3 linked regions of the Homo sapiens genome follow. The protein of the gene in region 1 interacts with the protein of each later gene in a pairwise test. Each region holds a gene or a part of one and is shown on either strand. Other genes may lie near its edges.

Region 1 (3,648 bases):
GCCCCCAAGAAGAAGAGCATCAAGTCATCCATAGGCCGTCTCTTTGGCAAGAAAGAGAAGGGACGAATGGGACCCCCAGGCCGGGACAGCTCTTCTCTGGGTGAGTACCTCACTCTAACCCTTCCCTCCTTTGTTCCTTCCTCCCTTCCTCCCTCCCTTTCTTTCTTCTTTGTATGTTCATTTGACATCCATTCATGTCTTCATTCATTTGGTGATTTATTTAGAATTTGGAAGGAACACAGCTTGCCAAGGTAGGCGGGAGGAGGAGGGAAAAGGAAAGGGCACTCTGGGACCTGCTTGGGTGACTGGGTAGGTAAAGGAATTTATTTCCTTTACTTATTTTTTTGTTGTTTTTTGGTTTTTGTTGTTGTTGTTTTGAGATGGAGTTTCACTCTGTCACCCAGGCTGGAGTGCAGTGGCAACGATCTTGGCTCACTGGAACCTCTACCTCCTGGGTTCAAGCGATTCTCCTGCCTCGGCCTCTTGAGCAGCTGGGACTATAGGCGCCCGCCACTATGCCTGGCTAATTTTTTTGTATTTTTAGTAGAGATAGGGTTTCCTCATGTTGGCCAGGCTGGTCTTGAACTCCTGACCTCAGATGATCCACCCACCTCGGCCTCCCAAAGTGCTGGGATTACAGACTCATTTACCTTTTTTTTTTTTTTTTTTTTTTTTTTTTGTTTGGAGACGGAGTCTTGCTCTGTCGCCCAGGCTGGAGTGCAGTGGTGCTATCTCGGCTCACTGCAAGCTCCGCCTCCCAGGTTCATGCCATTCTCCTGCCTCAGCCTCCCCAGTAGCTGGGACTACAGGCGCCCACCACCACGCCCGGCTAACTTTTTGTATTTTCAGTAGAGATGGGGTTTCACCGTGTTAGCCAGGATGGTCTTGATCTCCTGACCTTGTGATCTGCCTGCCTCAGCCTCCCAAAGTGCTGGGATTACAGGTGTGAGCCACCGTGCCCAGCCACCTATTTTTTAAACAGAGGAAGAGGGTGGGGCATCCTCAAAGCAGGGCACCTTCCTGTGGTGTGCTGGAGCCCGCTGGCACTGGCTCAGGAGATCCGCTATTTCAGGAATTGGCTGACATCACACTGGTAGCTTGAAATTGGCCATGGTGGGATTATTTACACCATGGAAATGGGCAAATGCTACAAATCAGGGATTCCCTTCTGCCTCCCCAAGGAGCCGGTTGTTAGGCATTTACCAGCATACAACTGCCACCTTACCAAGGGCATCCCAGTGCATCCAGCCGTATTTTGGGGATGACTCCAATTCATGGGCGCTTGTCTGCCTTTATCACTTCCTCGATGTGCCCTCACTCACTACTCCCTCAGGGCCTCTGCCTTTCCGGCATTTTCCTCATCACCTCCAGCATGAAAGATTCTGCCTCCCCCTTGAGATTTTCCAAATTTCGACCCCTCCCTGCCTCCAGCTGGAACACCCTCAGATGAGACACTGGCCACTGACCCTCTGGGGCTAGCCAAGCTGACAGGCCCAGGAGACAAGGACCGAAGGAACAAGAGGAAGTGAGTGTGTGTGAGTGTGAGCGTGTGTGTGTGTATGTGAATGTGAGAGTGTGTGAGGGTGTGTGTGTGCGTGTATGTGTGTGTATGAGTGTGTGTGTGTGTGAGAGGGTGTGTGAGTGTGTGTGTGCAGCGGTGGTGGTGGTGAACAGAAATGGGAATTCAATGCTGGGAGGAGGTGTCCGTGATCCTGAACTTGCTTGCCTGGAAACCCAGGAGCTCCTAGAGTTTTTATTTTTTCTTTCTTTTTTTAAAAATTTTTTTTGTATTTTTTACATTTATATTATATTTTTTGTTTCTTTTGTTTTTCTTATTTTGTTCTCTCTTTTGATAGGGGTTGGGGGGAGAGGATTTACAGATTCACATGTATTTTTTGACCTTCTGCCGTGTTTTGTACATTCATAAAAGCTGCGTGTGCGTATGTGCATGTGTGTGTGTGTGTATGTGTGCTGATGGGGGCCATCCACAGAGCAGGGGGTCTCCATCCCTGACAGCTTCTATCCTGGCCCCTTCACCCTTACAGGCATGAACTCCTGGAGGAGGCCTGCCGCCAGGGCCTACCTTTTGCTGCCTGGGACGGGCCCACCGTGGTGTCCTGGCTGGAGGTACTGGGGCCCAGAAATGCCCTGACTGTTGGTCCCCAACCCCTCTGACAGCCCCACTGGTAGGGGCTGCCTGGTCCTCCTGGCGCACCCTGCTTCTAGCCCAGAGGTGGGGGTGGCCATGGGCCTGGCAGGTGAGGACCCAGGAGGGCTCGGGCTTCCTGTTCACCTAAACAGTTTCTTTCTCCTTCTCCTTCTGCCCCTGCCACTCTGGCCTTGCCCACCTGGGTCATGGTCTCCTGTCGTTCTCTCTACTCTCTCTTTCTGGATTCTCTGTCTCTATTTTTCGGCACCATTCCCATCTCTGACCACGCTTTTGTCATTCCCCATATTTCTCCTCATGTCTCCGATCGCCCTGCCGATGTCTCCCTGTCTCCGGCTTCCTGTCTCTCCCCACCCTCTATTTCTCTCTCTCTATTTCTTTCTCTCTCTCTCTCTTTCTCTCTCCCTCTCCCTCTTCCCCCACCCGCCCCCCGCCCCCCGTTTCTCTCCCTATTTGTCTCCCTCGGACTCTCCCTCATCTCGTCCACGTCTCTTTTCCTTGTCCTGTTTCTTCTCCTTGCGAACTTTCCCACGTCTCTGTTTCGCTCCCCACCCCCTTGCCTTTCCCCACCTCCCTGTTCCCCCATCTCTCCGATTTTCTCCTCCTCTGTCCCTCTGTCCCCTCTGTCCCTCTGTCCCTCCGCTGCAGCTGTGGGTGGGCATGCCTGCCTGGTATGTGGCCGCCTGCCGGGCCAATGTCAAGAGCGGTGCCATCATGGCCAACCTGTCAGACACGGAGATCCAGCGCGAGATCGGCATCAGCAACCCGCTGCACCGACTCAAGCTACGCCTCGCCATCCAGGAGATGGTCTCGCTCACCTCGCCCTCAGCCCCCGCCTCCTCCCGCACTGTGAGTGTCCGGCGGCCAATTCCAGCCTTCGCTTCCTCAGAGCCCCGCCTCTTGCCCTCAGTCTAGCCAATCCTGGGCCTGCTCACTCCCCTGTCCCACGACCCTGCTTCTCATTGGCTTTTACCCCCCTCAGCCTCCCCTCCACTCCTAACTTGGCCTGTGGTCCGTCCCTGTGGTACTCCAGGAGGGGCCCAGGCCACCTCCTTCCCTGACTCTCTCCCTCTCCTCGGCATTTGCTGTCCCACTCAAATGTCACCACCTCTAAGAAGCTTTCTTTGTCAGCTAAACGAGTTTCCCCATCATTCCGGCATATCAGCACCTTCTAATTTTCCCCATAGCATTTATTGCCTTCTAATTATTTTATCTTTTCTTTCCTTTTTTTTTGGAGACAGAGTTTCGCTCTTGTTGTCCAGGCTGGAGTGCAATGGCGCTATCTCCGCTCACTGCAACCCCTGCCTCCCGGGTTCAAGCCATTCTCCTGTCTCAGCCTCCTGAGTAGCTGGGATTACAGGCGCCCGCCACCACGCCCAGTTAATTTTTGTATTTTTAGTAGAGACAGGGTTTTGACACGTTGGCCAGACTGGTCTTGAACTCCCGACCTCAGGTGATCCGCCCGCCTCGGCCTCCCAAAG
Region 2 (3,648 bases), on another chromosome or scaffold:
CCTTCTGCCACCATTCCTGGATGATTCCCCAGCCCTACTCTCCTGCTTAGGCCTAGAGAGGTCGAGCTGGAGGCCCACAGGCCATGGATGCTCACTAACAGACATGACTGATGGCCTGCTGTGCCCGTGCCATCCGCAGCGGCCTCAGCCTCAGTGTGTCTTTCCCACTCAGTTCTCTATCGGCAGTGGCCACCACCTGCCCTAGGAGTCTCCCTTCCTATCCGTGCACCTTCCAGCCTGAAAGGGATTTCCAAAGATTTAACTTTGTCACTCTCAGTTTAAAACCTTTTGATGGCTGCCCACGTAAAGCCCACCCTCTTTAGCCTGACAGCCAAACACCTGGCTAATCTGACCCCTGCCACACTCCTGACATTGCGACACTGAACTCATTCAGTGTTCAGGCCCACACAGGGTGTGCCCTCTGCGGATCTCCCTCCCCCTGCCCACTTGGCAACAGCAATCTCATCGTTCAGGACTCAAGTCCATGCTCTGGTGCCTGCAAGGCCTTGCCTGGCCCCTACCCCTTCCTTGCACAGCTGTCCCCTGTGATGCTCCACTGCAAACGCAGCTGGGCCTGTGTGCCAAGCCTTCAGCCCCCAGCACTGGGCTGAGCCCACAGGCATGTCAGTGAGCACCTGGCAGATGAAGATATGCTAGTCTGTGTGTCTGAGCACATCTCTGCACCATGCAGGAGAGCCTGTATCCTGTGTGCCTACCCTGGACCCACTGTTCCTTCCTAAAGAGTCCACTCCTTCCTCCCAGGGTGGATGGACCTGTGGGCGGGTCCCTAAGGAGTGTCCCACAGATGCACTCATCCTTCCCACTTCCACCTGCATTCTGGGTCTGTCCAGAGAGGTAGACCCCCTCCCTGTGAATGTCATGTGGGTGCCATATAAGGGGCCTGCAGGGTCCCCATGTCATTAGAGGGCTGAGTGCTTGGTGGAAACTGTGACCGTTCCTTTCTTCTGTCCTTGCTTGTCTTTCGGGACCTAGTAAACAAGAAAGGTAGGAGTTGTTCCTTCTCTCTTCACACACCTCCCCCTCTACTTCTAATCCTTGGGCCAGCAGGGAGGGATGACGCTTTGACCAGAAGTCCCCTGGCCTATGGCTTTAAGCAGCAAACTGTCCAGTCAGCTCAGCAGGCTCCCTGGTTCAGGACTGAGTCCTCATTGGTGTGAGGAGGCAGTTTCTGTCTCACTCTTGCCAGTTCAACTCTGCAGAGGATGCTTCTTCTCTGGGGCACATACATAATACAGACTGCATTGCTTTCCCTGAGCGTACAGAGCTCACCAGAACCATCACCCGGCTCCCAGTTCTCTGAGAAGTTGCCTAAGTGCTGCGAGAGACAGTCTCGCACAGAGCAAAGAGCAGTCACTGTGTGGAACAGCAGAGAGGCATGTCCTTGTACCCACCTGAGCACACTCACTCAAATTCTTCTTTCCGAAGCACATGCGTCTGCAGACCACAAGTAGCCTCTGGCTATTTGTTGGCAGCTGAATCCTATGGTCTGTCTCTGACCCTGTCCTTGTAGATGGGAAAACTGAGGCCAGTGAGAGAGGACTCTGCCCAGCTAGGGTGACGCCTTTCCCGTCCCTCCCCTGCTGCCCTGGGCATTTACCCTGATACTCTGAGGGCCAAAAAGCTGGGGCCCTGTCTCCTGTGCTGTTTGTGTATTTTATGTGTCATTTGCATGTTTGTTCCCGGTGGTTCCTGCTACTCAGCTGGGTGGCCTTGGAGATAGCAGTCACTGTCCTGCAGTGACCTGCCTTCTATCCAAAGGAGCTGCTCGCCCCTGCAACCCCTTCCTCCCTGCTGCACTGCCCCTCTGCTCACGCCACACTCCTGCTCTCCCTACCCCCTCCCTGCCCTGTGTTCTCTCATGTCAAGGCTGTTCTGGCCCTGGCTCCTCCGCGCTCAGAGATCCTGGGAAGAGGTGGGGCAGTAGGAGGACAGAGCCGTGGACATGGGGGCTCCTTGGCAGCCAGCCATGCCATGTGTCACTGTCTCAGCCTGGACCTCAGGTTCTCACCAGCCTCCCTTCTGTCTCTCTAGGAAAAGGACCCACTCTCCGTCCTCTAAGGATGAGCAGTCGATCGGACTGAAGGACTCCTTGCTGGCCCACTCCTCTGACCCTGTGGAGATGCGGAGGCTCAACTACCAGACCCCAGGTAGGGCACTCCTATGGCCTGTGTGCCCCCAGCCCAGACCTAGCAGGCCTGTGGGTCTGTTCTGCAGGTCTCAGGGTCGCCACTGAAGTTCCTGGGCCGCATGCACTTGTTCCTGCTCCTTTTCTTCCTTTCTGCCCTTCTCCCTGTGCTCATCCACTTTGGTTGGAATGACTGGGGAGCCCCCATATCCTGCAGCTGGACAGGTGCCCCAGGCCAGGACCCTCTTAGGTGGCAAAGCCACTTAGCCACTGCCTTGTCTTCAGTCAAGGCCTCTGAATATGGGCTGAGGACCTCCCAGAGCCCACGTCTCTGCCACAGGGTGGCCAGTGTCTGGCGCACGCTCTGACGCCTCCACATGAAAGAGGGGCATGTTAGCAGTGGGAGATGCCTCACCAGACATCTGTGGGGAGATGAAGTGCCTGCACCTGAGCCTTCCTGGAGGCCGACCCCAGGTTTACCATACCACGTACCTGCCCCTTCTCCTAGCCACTCTCATGGGGCTGTCCACCTCTTCCTTCTACCTGAAATGTTACTCCTCCCAACACCCAGCAGACACAGCTCAGACCTCTCCTCTTGCCCACACCCCCACAGGGTTAGGTGTCTCTTCTTGGCTCCAGGAACCTCCCTCCTTCTTCCTTTTGACGCCTCTCACAGTGAGCTGGGATTACCTCAGTGACAGTCTCTGAGCTCTGTGGTGCCAGGAACTGTGTCTTGTCATCCCCCATCCCTTGTATTCAGCGCACGATGGGTTCTTGTTGAATGCCTGTGAAATGAACACACAGACAAATGAAGGAATGAGTGAACTAATGCATACACACAGGGTTTGTGTATGTATGAGCTGGTTATTCTGCATGTCAAATTACCCCAAAACTTAGTGGCTTAAAACAACAATAATTATGTATTATCTGTCACAGTTTTTGTGAGGCAGGAATTCAGACAGGGGCACAGCAGGAACAGCTTGTCTTTATTCCAGAAAGTCTGGGCCCTCAGCCGGAAGACTTGAAGGCTGGGAGCTAGAGTCATTTAAAGCAGGGGTTGGCAGACTATGGCCCGTGGCCAAGTACAGCCCACCACCTGTTTTTGTAAATAAATTTTTACTGGCTGGGCGTGGTGGCTCATGCCTGTGATCCCAGCACTTTGGGAGGCTGAGCCGGGTGGATCACCTGAGGTCAGGAGTTCGAGACCAGCTAATGAAATCCCATCTCTACTAAAAGTACAAAAATTAGCCAGGTGTGTGGCCCCTGTCATCCCAGCTACTCAGGAGGCTGAGGCAGGAGAATCACTTGAACCCAGGAGGTAGAGGTTGCGTGAGCCAAGATCGTACCATCGCATTCCAGCCTGGGTGACAAGAGCAAAACCCCATCTCAAAAATAAACAAATAAATAAAATTCTACTGGAACAGACACACCCATTTATTTATATGCTACCTACCTATGGTTGCTTTTGCACTGTAAAGGCACCATTAAATAGATGCAGTAGA
Region 3 (3,550 bases), about 44 Mb from region 1:
GGTGGAGGCTGCTGTGGGCGGGGTGGGGAGGAGGCCCAAAGAGCCGAAAATCAGGCCCGCCTCGAGCAATGGGGACTAGAAGGTGGTGGCAGGGTGCCCCTACCTACCTATCCACCATTGGTGCTCCAGCTGAAAGCATAGCCTTCCTCATCCTGATGGTGGCCTCTGGCTTCCTCCTCCCCACAGCGGCTGGCTAACTCCAAGGCCCACACGTCACGCTTCATCAGTGCCAATCTGCCTTGTAACAAGTTCAAGAACCGCCTGGTGAACATCATGCCCTATGAGAGCACACGGGTCTGTCTGCAACCCATCCGGGGTGTGGAGGGCTCTGACTACATCAACGCCAGCTTCATTGATGGCTACAGGTAGGTGCCATGCCTTTCCCACCTCAGGGCCCCAGAAGGAGCCCATCTCTACTCTCAAGAGGCCTCCAGTCTTGTGGGAGACAGAGCTGGGGAGATACTGGTAGCCCTGAGCTGTTTAAATACACATCTTTAGATGTATATTTAACTGATGGCTGCTGTCCGTGAATCTTTGGGTGTGTGTTTAACTGATGGCTGCTGTCCATAATGTGATTCCATCTGTTCTATCAGTGGTTCTCAATTGGGGTAATTCTGACACCCTGAGGATATTTCTTATTTTCATGAGTACTACTGGTACTGCCTGGGTGGGGACCAGGCATGCTGCTCAGCATCCTACAGTACACAGAACAGCTTGTCTCAGAGAACAATCCAGCGCCAAATGTCAATAGCACTGAGATTGAGAAATCCTGGCAAAGGAGGGGAGGGTGTTCCTGGCAGAGGGTGCCACATGTGCAAAGGCCCGGGGCTGAGAGCTTGGCCCACGCAAGCAACTGAAAGTAGGGCAGTGGCCCTTGAAGGAGATGGAGGGAAGAAATCAGGAGAGGTTAGTGGATAGTCCCGCAGCTTTGTCAAGGGATTTGAATTTGTCATGAGACTGGTGGTTTCCCCACATGCAAAATGGGATCACCAGGAGGGGAAGTGGTGCACCCAGCAGCCATTCCTGGCAGGCAGTGGGGTGGTAGGTGTAGCTGTCACTGGCTTGGTCCTGACCCTCCCGGGCAGCATCAGGTGAGTACCACGCCGGGTCTCCCTGCCGGCCCTGGGCTCATACCCCCAACGCCTGCAGGCAGCAGAAGGCCTACATCGCGACACAGGGGCCGCTGGCGGAGACCACGGAAGACTTCTGGCGCATGCTGTGGGAGAACAATTCGACGATCGTGGTGATGCTGACCAAGCTGCGGGAGATGGGCCGGGTGAGCTAGGGGCCACAGCAGGGAAGGGCGAGGGCCAGACTGTGGCTCAGACAGCGCTGACCACGGCCGCCATCTCCTCCACAGGAGAAGTGTCACCAGTACTGGCCGGCCGAGCGCTCTGCCCGCTACCAGTACTTTGTGGTAGATCCGATGGCAGAATACAACATGCCTCAGTATATCCTGCGAGAGTTCAAGGTCACAGATGCCCGGGTGAGTGAAGAGACAGACTGGCGGGAGGGGCTGGAGCCTTAGTGATCTGGAAAGGGCTGCCCTGGTTGGTGATGGATACAAAGGCCAAGGGTTAGGCATAAGCATTGGGAATCAGGAGAAGTGTCAGCTGACCAGTTGGCCACTTGCTTCTACTGCCACATAGGTGGAAGAGAGGGTCTTATCTCTGTGCTGACCCTGCAGTGTCTCCACTCACTAGGGAACATGGCCCCAGGGGATGATATTCAAGGAAGTGAATGGGGCTTTCCTCTGGAAGCAGCCACCTGTGGAGGATGATGTTAAAGGGCTGAAAGGGACTTGAGGGATTGAGGGTGAGGGGTGGTAGACGGTGGACAAGGAGAGTCAGATGGTGGGGACTGGCACCGTTGGGTGAGGAGAGATGAGTATGGATGGTGTTGGCTCAATGAAGGACTGCAGTGTCAGGTGGAGGGAGAAAGGCCAGGTATTAGGTGGCAACAGATGAAGACTCATAGTGGAAGGTGGCCCTGTTGGGTGACAAAGGATCAAAGTTAGTGGTGGAAGATCGACGATGGTAGAGAACGCAGTGAGGGGATGATAGAGGATGGGGAATGTTGGCCAAGATGATGCCAAAGGATGGTGAAGGCTGCTGAATGAACAGCAATCACCGGGCATTGTGCTGTGAGCAGTGCAAGATGGTGCCCTTGGAGGGGTGGAATCTGGAATTGGAGAGAAGAACATTCGCATAACAGGATGGAGAATGTCAGTGGAATGTGGTAGTTTGGGTCAGTGAAGGGTGATGCTTTATCAGTGATGGATGGAGGAAGACAGAATTGGAGAAGGGCAAATGTTTGGCCAGCAGGGGGTGGAGAAAATCAATGGGAAATACTAGGACTAAGAAAGGACAGTAAACAATAGTCAATGGTATAAACCAATGGGTGGTACAAGATTGAGGAAGATGGGGTTGGGAAAGGAGATTTTAGAAAATGTAAAACATCAGGGAAAGATGGTACATTGGATGGCAAATGGTGGCAGAGGATAACAATTTTGGATGGCACCATTTTGATGGTGGAGGATGGGATTAGAACAAGGCAGATGATGGGGAATGGAGAATGTCAGTGGAAGATGGTACCCTTGGATGGTGGAGAGTGATGAATTGTTAGTGATGGATGGTGGAAAATGGCACCATTGAGTTGTGAAGGATGGAAGATGGCAGAGAATGATGTGGTTGGATGGCACCACTGGGTGGTAGGAAAGGAGACTGCAAAGAGGAATGGTTGAGTAGTGGGGAATGAAGACAGTCAGTGGAAGATGCCATCACTGAATGGTTAAGGATGAGTTACCAAGAGGGGATGGTGGTGGATGATGGAAGATGATGGTGTTGGGTGGAACTCGGGACGGCAGAAGGTAGTGAGTTACCAGCAGTGGGTGGTAGCAGTGGCACTGTTATTGGATGGTGGAAGATGATGGTGTTGGATGGTGGACGATGAAAGATGATGGCACCATTGGGTTGTAGAAGATGAGTCATCATTGATGAGCTATGGACAGTGATGGAGTTGAGTTGTGCTGTAGGGCCCCGAAATGGCACAGAGTGGAAGATGACAGAGGATCATGGTGAATAGGAGCTGGGAAGGGCAGAGCTGGTTGCACTATGGGATGGCAAAGGATGGAGGATGGAGGTGCTGGATGTCATACAGGAAATGTGGGGAGAGGAACAGCTGGGTGGCAAGAAGTGGTGAGGATGAGGTTGGAGCATCTCTTATGGAAAGCAGTACCATTGGATTGTGAAGGACGGTAAGTTGTCAGGGTAAATGAATGGCAGAGAGTGTACAAAATGGGGGTGAGGGCCGGGCCTGGTGGCTCATGCCTGTAATCCCAGCTAATCGGGAGGCTGAGGCAGGAGAATTACTTGAATCACTGGAGGTGGAGGTTGCAGTGAGCCGAGATCACGCCATTGCACTCCAACCTGGGCGACAAGAGTGAAACTCCATCTCAAAAACAAACAAACAAACAAAAAATGGGGGTGAAGATAGGGAGGATGGAGAAAAACCCCCATGGCCGCTGCTGACCTGATAACAAGATTGGGCT

The links.
Region 2: the proteins of PPFIA3 (region 1) and PTPRF interact in a two-hybrid assay, tested with the Homo sapiens proteins (one study listed by BioGRID).
Region 3: the proteins of PPFIA3 (region 1) and PTPRS interact in a two-hybrid assay, tested with the Homo sapiens proteins (one study listed by BioGRID).

Annotation. Positions count from the first base shown.
Region 1 is NC_000019.10:49,139,989-49,143,636, forward strand, and holds part of PPFIA3 (liprin-alpha-3), read left to right. Parts: coding exon 1-100; intron 101-1,431; coding exon 1,432-1,525; intron 1,526-2,045; coding exon 2,046-2,127; intron 2,128-2,815; coding exon 2,816-3,016; intron 3,017-3,648. UniProt on the Homo sapiens protein: May regulate the disassembly of focal adhesions. May localize receptor-like tyrosine phosphatases type 2A at specific sites on the plasma membrane, possibly regulating their interaction with the extracellular environment and their association with substrates.
Region 2 is NC_000001.11:43,607,331-43,610,978, forward strand, and holds part of PTPRF (receptor-type tyrosine-protein phosphatase F isoform 1 precursor), read left to right. Parts: intron 1-993; coding exon of another isoform or gene 994-1,005; intron 1,006-2,052; coding exon 2,053-2,168; intron 2,169-3,648. UniProt on the Homo sapiens protein: Possible cell adhesion receptor. It possesses an intrinsic protein tyrosine phosphatase activity (PTPase) and dephosphorylates EPHA2 regulating its activity.
Region 3 is NC_000019.10:5,208,405-5,211,954, reverse strand, and holds part of PTPRS (receptor-type tyrosine-protein phosphatase S isoform 1 precursor), read left to right. Parts: intron 1-186; coding exon 187-365; intron 366-1,149; coding exon 1,150-1,276; intron 1,277-1,360; coding exon 1,361-1,486; intron 1,487-3,550. UniProt on the Homo sapiens protein: Cell surface receptor that binds to glycosaminoglycans, including chondroitin sulfate proteoglycans and heparan sulfate proteoglycan.